Linked DNA regions of Homo sapiens. The protein of the gene in region 2 purifies or fractionates together with the protein of the main gene of each other region. This does not show direct contact. Each region holds a gene or a part of one and is shown on either strand. Other genes may lie near its edges.

Region 1 (3,657 bases), on a different chromosome or scaffold from region 2:
CAGTGAGAAATCTTAGACATTCTATTCCTTAAATCTCTTATTACACAAATGTTTCAACAGAAAAACCACATCTAGCTTTTAATAATACCAACTGTAATGACAGTTATCACTAACTGGCTGCCTGCAACATATCCAATATATTATCTCATTTGATCCATACAATAACCATATAATTATTATTAGTTTTATTTCATTTGTAAGTAAAATAAAAATGAAGTAAACTGGAAAATTTACTTTAAATTGTATCCTTAGTTTTTCTTTTCTTTTCTTAAAACTAGAGACACAGTCTCACTGTTGTCCAGGCTGGGTCTCAAATTCCTGAGCTCAAGCAATCCTCCCGCCTTGGCCTCCCAAAGTGCTGGGATTAAAGGCATGTGCCACCACACCCAGCCATATCCTTACGTTTAAATGAAGTACATCTTAAAAACTGAATGGATAAATAACTGAAATAACACACAAAAAACCTTCAGTAATTAAACTCTAGCCAAAGTTTATGATATATCGAATATTATGCAGAAATGAATAAAAATTTGGTAATCCAATATAAAACTAAGTAAAATCTTAAATATGAGCGAGATTTCCTGGAACATCTTTGGCACTGTATTTGTCTATTTAAGCATAACTGAACCCATTCTAATAAGCAAAGTAGGTAGTACACCTTCTTAGGTGGTATGTGAGAGCTTAAGGTCATCCTCAATGGTTATTGAAGCATATTCTTTTTATTTTCTTTATTTTTAAATAGACAGGGTCTCACTATGTTGCCCAGGCTAGTCTCGAACTCCTGGGCTCAAGCAATCCTCCCCTCTCGGCCTCCCAAAGTGCTAAATTACAGGCATGAGCCACCGTGCCCGGTCCTGAAGCACATTCTTTCACAACTTTTCCTAGCATACTCACTAAAACAGCTTAGAAATATCTACAGTTCTTATTGATAACATTTTCCTTCCTATTCTCCTTTCTGAAGACAATTATTTATATATCAAAATGTTCAGCTGAAAGGGAAATCTCTCTCCCAGCTCAGTTTCTCCTGTTCCATTCACAGCTGAAATAACTTACCTATGAAACACTTCTAGGATCATTATATGTTGGAATCCTGAATTCTGCTCTATCTCCCTCATTATCAAAAAGCTCTCACCATTTTCTTACATACCCTCAAAATGTCAAAAAATATGTAGGCATCAAATACAAAGTCTAAGTCTTTTCCTTCCTTGCTTTATGCATTCACATACTATATGCTGCAAGAAAACAATAAAAATACCTACTGACTTTATTCTTACTTACAGGTATTTTCACCTACAGCAATCTACCTGACTAGATCTACTTGTCTGCCATCTACAGAGCAAGTAACTGAGGCCTCAATAGACAGGTTGTGCTACTGCGCAGGAATGAGTTCCCGGTTCATCTTTCATTACTTCACTCTTCTCCAGACTGTGCTATATTACCTCACACTATGCATCTCCCTTTTTATAATGAGAGTTACTGCAATTTTAAATATCTCATTTTGCTTCACAGTCATCAATCCTTTGTTGACAAAAATCTACCTTACTGATAATGCCCCAACCAAATATAAATCAACTACTTTCTCTTGCATACATGAAGTGAAATAAATAGAACAGCATGTTTTATTCTAAGCAGAAGACTGTCTCAAACGTATGTACTTACCACAGGAACTATCTGAAATAGGTGATTACTGTTACAGTGATCCAGTAAACGCTGTCTGGTAAAATTTGATTCTTGACACAGGGGACACTTAAAAGTAGGATGACCAGAAGAACTATAAAACAATTTTAAGTGAAACATACTTAATTCAGAATAACACAAAAATAACGCTCTCCTATTTTTTGAGGAATCACTATACATTTTTTAAAAAAGTTATAATTATTAGACTATTCAAAGATTCTCTCATTTTGAACATATGTATTCAGGAAATGATGCATTACAGAGGTTCCCAATCTCAGTTTACAGTACTCTTAGTGTCCTCAATAAATTTTTTCATGGCACCTCTAGGCCAAAACAAAAACAAAAACAAAAACCTAGCTGACTCCATATATTATGTAGTTAGGTCCAAACTTAATTGTAGTTGTTTTCTGATGCCAATAGCTGTCACTGTATGTCCCTTGAAAATTTTTAATATTCTGTAGTATTCCACATTTTGCAAACCTTTTATCTAGGAACTTAAAACTTCTAAAAGACTTCCATCAATATCGTATCTCTAATAAATACCAGGCCCTAGGAATCCAACATCCAAAATTCAAAGGAAAAGAAAAAACAAAAGCACTGATCATGAGAATGAAATACTCGAAAACATTCTGAGGATCAAGCATCACTGAGTTTTAATACTTCTGAATTTCAGGAAGGGACAGTTCAACACAGACAACTTTACCTGAATCGTGTGTGGAAGAAACCTGACCACAGTGAAAGAGAATAACTAAACTCTTCTAACCTAATGTGATTCTTAAAAGCAGTAACTGCATTTTCTATTTCTAAACTGCTAACTTCAAACACTATGCCTAATGATGTAACTGATTTTTTTTTTTTTTTTAAGTTTAATTTATGGCCAGGCGCAGTGGCTCATGCCTGTAATCCCAGCACTTTGGGAGGCCAAGGCAGGTGGATTATCTGAGGTCAGGAGTTCGAGACCAGCCTGGCCAACATGGTGAAACCCTGTTTCTACTAAAAATACAAAAATTAGCCGGGCGTGGTGGCAGGCACCTGTAATACCAGATACTTGGGAGGCTGAGGCAGGAGAATCACTTGAACCTGAGAGGCGCAGGTTGCAGTGAGCCAAGATCGCACCACTGCACTCCAGCCTGGGAAAACAAAGTGAGACTCCGTCTCAAAAAAAAAAAAAAAAAGTTTAATTTAAAAAGCTATTTGATAAGTGATAAATATAATATTACTTGCTAAAGTGGCAGGATTTTTCAAAAGCTTACCTTGTATTCTCTTGGTAAGTTTCTGTGTTATCAGATGTGGATGTTTCACTCCTATTGCTTAAGAAGCACAGGGGAAAAAGTTAATACCTCAAAGTAATGAAAACACACTAAAGGTTCATTATCTTGAACCATTAATGAAGAAGACTAGTCTGAATTTGTTTTAAAAGTCTGAACTTCAATACACCTTTTTCCTATTGGGTCCTTGAAAAAACAAAATTTGAACTTCAAATGGTTCTGAACTATGAAATAATTACAATATTAATTACTTTTAAATAAATTGACTGCTTACTAGATTCTTATTTATGTTCTTTAAAATTAACTTATGCACAGTTACAGAAGTATAGAGAATTTTGCAGAATTACCTTAAATCCCATTCCTCTACCTTTACCTAGACTAGTAAGGTTTTAAATGCTACGGTAGACTCAAGAATTTGTGAACTTTTTTACTTCAAACTAGGACATGGTATAAGGTTATGCCCTCCAAAGTGCAGTAATTTAAGAAAATATGTAAATGTTCATTATGTTTGTATTTTATTTCCAGAAAGGAAAGAAACCAGGCTTCACTAACATTTAATATACAGAACAACTTAACATCTCCACTTTTACCATATGCCAGAGAGTCATGTGTCACATGGAATATCAGAGGAATCCTGAGGGAAGAGTAAGTATTCCATACAGGGACCGTCACCTGTGTGCTACAGAATTTGATCAATGTGGTCAATTTTATT
Region 2 (3,657 bases):
CCATGAGTCTATAAATACTTCAAAATTTAAAAAAAAATGTTTAAGTGATGATATTCAATCACATTTTTCTTATTTTACAAATTACTAATATTTTAAGTAGGATCAAAAACATGGAACTAATATATTTTAAATTATTTGAAAATGTTTTTCATCCTTATCACATTTTTTTGTTAATGTCTTTTTTATTTTTTATTTATTTTTTATTTTTTTGAGACAGAGTTTCGCTCTTGTTGCCCAGTTTGGAGTGCAATGGTGCAATCTCGGCTCACCGCAACCTCCGCCTCCCGGATTCAAGTGATTCTCCTGCCTCAGCCTCCTGTGTAGCTGGGATTACAGGCATGCACTACCACGCCTGGCTAATTTTGTATTTTTAGTAGAGATGGGGTTTCTCCATGTTGGTTGAGCTGGTCTCGAACTCGCAACCTCAGGTGATCTGCCCGCCTCAGCCTCCCAAAGTGCTGGAATTACAGGTGTGAGCCACCACGCCCGGGTTAATGTCTTATTATGAACATAATTTATAGTATATAGTTTACAATAAATAAGCATACACATATTGGGAATGAAGACTCAATTTTTTATACTGCTGAAATAAAATTTTTGCAGACTTCTGTTACAGAGGCTACAAAATTCCAAGCTACTATCCCTCCCTTAAAATTTTTACCTTGGGAAGAACATTAGAACAGGAAAAATGTTAGAACAGGAAAAATACTAAACTAAGAATCAAAGCACAGTTCTTTTTTTGTTTGTTTTTTGTTATTTCCTTTCAAATCTACATCTGCAGAAAAAGAACAATTCTAAACAAGTCACAGTCTCATTCTCATCTATAAAATGCAGAAATTCTACTGTATCATTCCTAAGGACATTCTAGCTCCAAAAACATTAACTCTAAGGCAGGAAAAGGTGAAACAATGAAAAAATGCATGACAAACTGTAACTAGTATTTACTGAAAGTATATTAAGGGTTCAGTAGTATCAGGAATATTACATACAAGACATGGTCTAAATTGTATCAACACAAATACAGAAAAATGCATCTATAAAGATAATTTTACCTCAAAGAAAACAGATTAAGATCCAGTTTAAACAAAAATATTTAGGTAACAGACACATCTGGCTATTTTACAAGCAATCTCATAGTGCTTTAAGACTTTTAATATCTGCTCTTTGACTTACATTGTAACAATATACCAGTAGATCTAAGTATCCTAGTATACATGCTTAGGGTTTTGATGGTTCTTACAAGAAGTAGACTAGCAAGTCATTCTAACAGGAAAAACAGTTCTTCTCCATCCACTTGAGTTAGACTTAACAAGACAATTTTTAGAGGTTTATTATTCAGAGGAAGTTAAACATCCACAGGGTAGCATCTACCATCCTGTTATACCATCCTCGGCTATCCAGAAGCATCACTTAGCCAAAACAGAGTCAAAAACCAGAAAAAAAGCACGAGTCCTCTAAGCAGTAAAAAACAACAAGTCCCTAGCACTAAAGCTCCATGCACAGAAAGTCTTCTGGTTCCTCACCCAGAAGAACATGCTGTCATTTTTATCCACCATTCAGCAAGTACTGTATGGGGTTCTGTTCCCACAGCACACTGAAAACATCAAATTATAAAGAGGAGACTACTATGGGCAGGCATAATGAGAGCAAACAAAGAGATAACAGTTAACAATAAAGTAATAAGCAAATCAACCCCCAAAAGCAGACATGATTTAGAAAGGAATGGTTTCACCAACAAACAAAATATGATTCTCTGTACATTGCTGGCTGAGGACACTAATTGGCTAGAGTTCCTTTTGCAAATAAATTGTTGTGAGTTCACTGACATCCCAGACATACGAATGTCACTAAATCTATTGACTACTTAATAAGTAAGGTATAAGTATTAATAATGTATATGTACCATCTTTTAAGGTGGAAGGATGCAGATTATATTTTGAGAATTTTTTGTAATTGTTTCCATTAACTATACTTTACACTTCTACAGGCTAGCAAGTCTTTGTCTTTTTAAGATTATTTTGAACCTCTATTTTTGATAGTAATTCACTTGATAGTCACATGAGACCTGCCGGTAAAGGCCACAGTGAGCCGTGATTGCACCACTGCACTCCAGCCTGGGCAACAGAGCAAGACTCTGTGTCAAAAAAATAAATAAATACCTTTCTAAACTTGGATCTACATACATCAAGGGATGATGTACTTGAATCTACTCATACTATTTATACACATTGAGAGGGATCAAGTTACACAGGAATGTACATTTATTAAGATGCACATTCATCAAACTAATATTTTTAACCAGTATTATAGATGGCATAACCCATCTTAAGTTTTAAAATGGAAAAATAAAATTACAAATTATCTTTCCAGCATTCTTTACTATTGAACTAAATTAAATCACATCTGAAGCTTACCCTGAAATGAAGAGACCTACCAAAAAAAAAAAAAAAAAAAAAAAAAGCAGAACAAAACAAGAATTCTGAGAAGTGGAAATACTACACTGAAATCCATTCAGGCAACAAAGAACACGTGAGTGGTTTATATCCTAAAAAGCAAGGCTGCACTGCAGTAAGTAAACAAACTAATGTTCCTTTTTCATCAACTTTCAGATGCTTTTAACAACAACAACACTTTTAACCTTTCTGAAGTATGGACGCTGAAATAGAGGTGTATCTTACAACTACTGTCATCCAACAGTGGGATGTCGTTGGTGAAAACGTTCAGTTGATTCCTCCTGGAAAGATCAAGGAAGCACCAGCATCAAAGTGTCTTACATTTGATCAAAAATAGTCACTCAAAATAGTCTTAAAAAGACAAAGAAATGATCAGAAGCCTGTAAAAGTATAATCAACAGAGACAACTACAAAAAATTCTCAAAATGTAAACTGCATCCTCCTACCTTAAAATATGGTACATATAAATTACTTATCACACTACTTAGCAAGTAGTCAACAGATTATCTATCATTATTATTATAAGACGCAAGATAAAGACTAGTAGAGCTGATGAAAATATCTGTGATCATAGTGATCAGCCAATCAATAAGCACTTATTAAGGGTCTACCAAGTCACTAGCAATATGCAAGAGTAATGCAAATCCATCATGATCAATCTACGAAGCACTATTTTTTTAACCAGTAAGGGGCAAATGTCACATCACATTCATCAACGATTAGAACTAAGTACTTTTAACTTCCTTTAAAGTATTGCCCTTTATTTGAGTCCAGTCTGCAGAACTCGAAACCTAAATTGTTTACTTGAAAAGAGTCATCAAATGATTATGTTAGTATAAGGAAGTGTTACCAGAATGAGTCTAATGGTTTTCATAGGGGAAAAAAAAAATTTCCTATTATTCTCCAGGCTTAGGTAGAATAATGATGGGTTAAATTTTCTCTTAAAACCTTTCTACGGTGGCTCACACCTGTAATCCCAGCACTTTGGGAGGCCAAGGCAGGCAGATAGCTTCAGCCTAGGAGTTCAAGATCAGCCTAGGCAACATGGCAAGATCCTCTTTCTACAAAAAATAGCTGGGTGTGGTGGCACATGCCTGTGGTTCCAGCTACTCACGGGGCTGAGGTGAGAGGATCACTTGAGCCCAGCTGGTGGAGGCTACAGTGGAAACTGTAGCTGTGACTGCACCACTGCACTCCAGCCTGG

What was found.
Region 1: the proteins of FRYL (region 2) and RNF138 purify together in Homo sapiens (affinity purification with mass spectrometry; 2 studies listed by BioGRID and IntAct, with this or other methods). This does not show direct contact.

The regions. Positions count from the first base shown.
Region 1 is NC_000018.10:32,122,848-32,126,504, reverse strand, and holds part of RNF138 (E3 ubiquitin-protein ligase RNF138), read right to left. Parts: intron 2,988-3,657; coding exon 2,931-2,987; intron 1,772-2,930; coding exon 1,660-1,771; intron 1-1,659. UniProt on the Homo sapiens protein: E3 ubiquitin-protein ligase involved in DNA damage response by promoting DNA resection and homologous recombination.
Region 2 is NC_000004.12:48,770,245-48,773,901, forward strand, and holds part of FRYL (protein furry homolog-like), read right to left. Parts: intron 1-3,657. UniProt on the Homo sapiens protein: Plays a key role in maintaining the integrity of polarized cell extensions during morphogenesis, regulates the actin cytoskeleton and plays a key role in patterning sensory neuron dendritic fields by promoting avoidance between homologous dendrites as well as by limiting dendritic branching.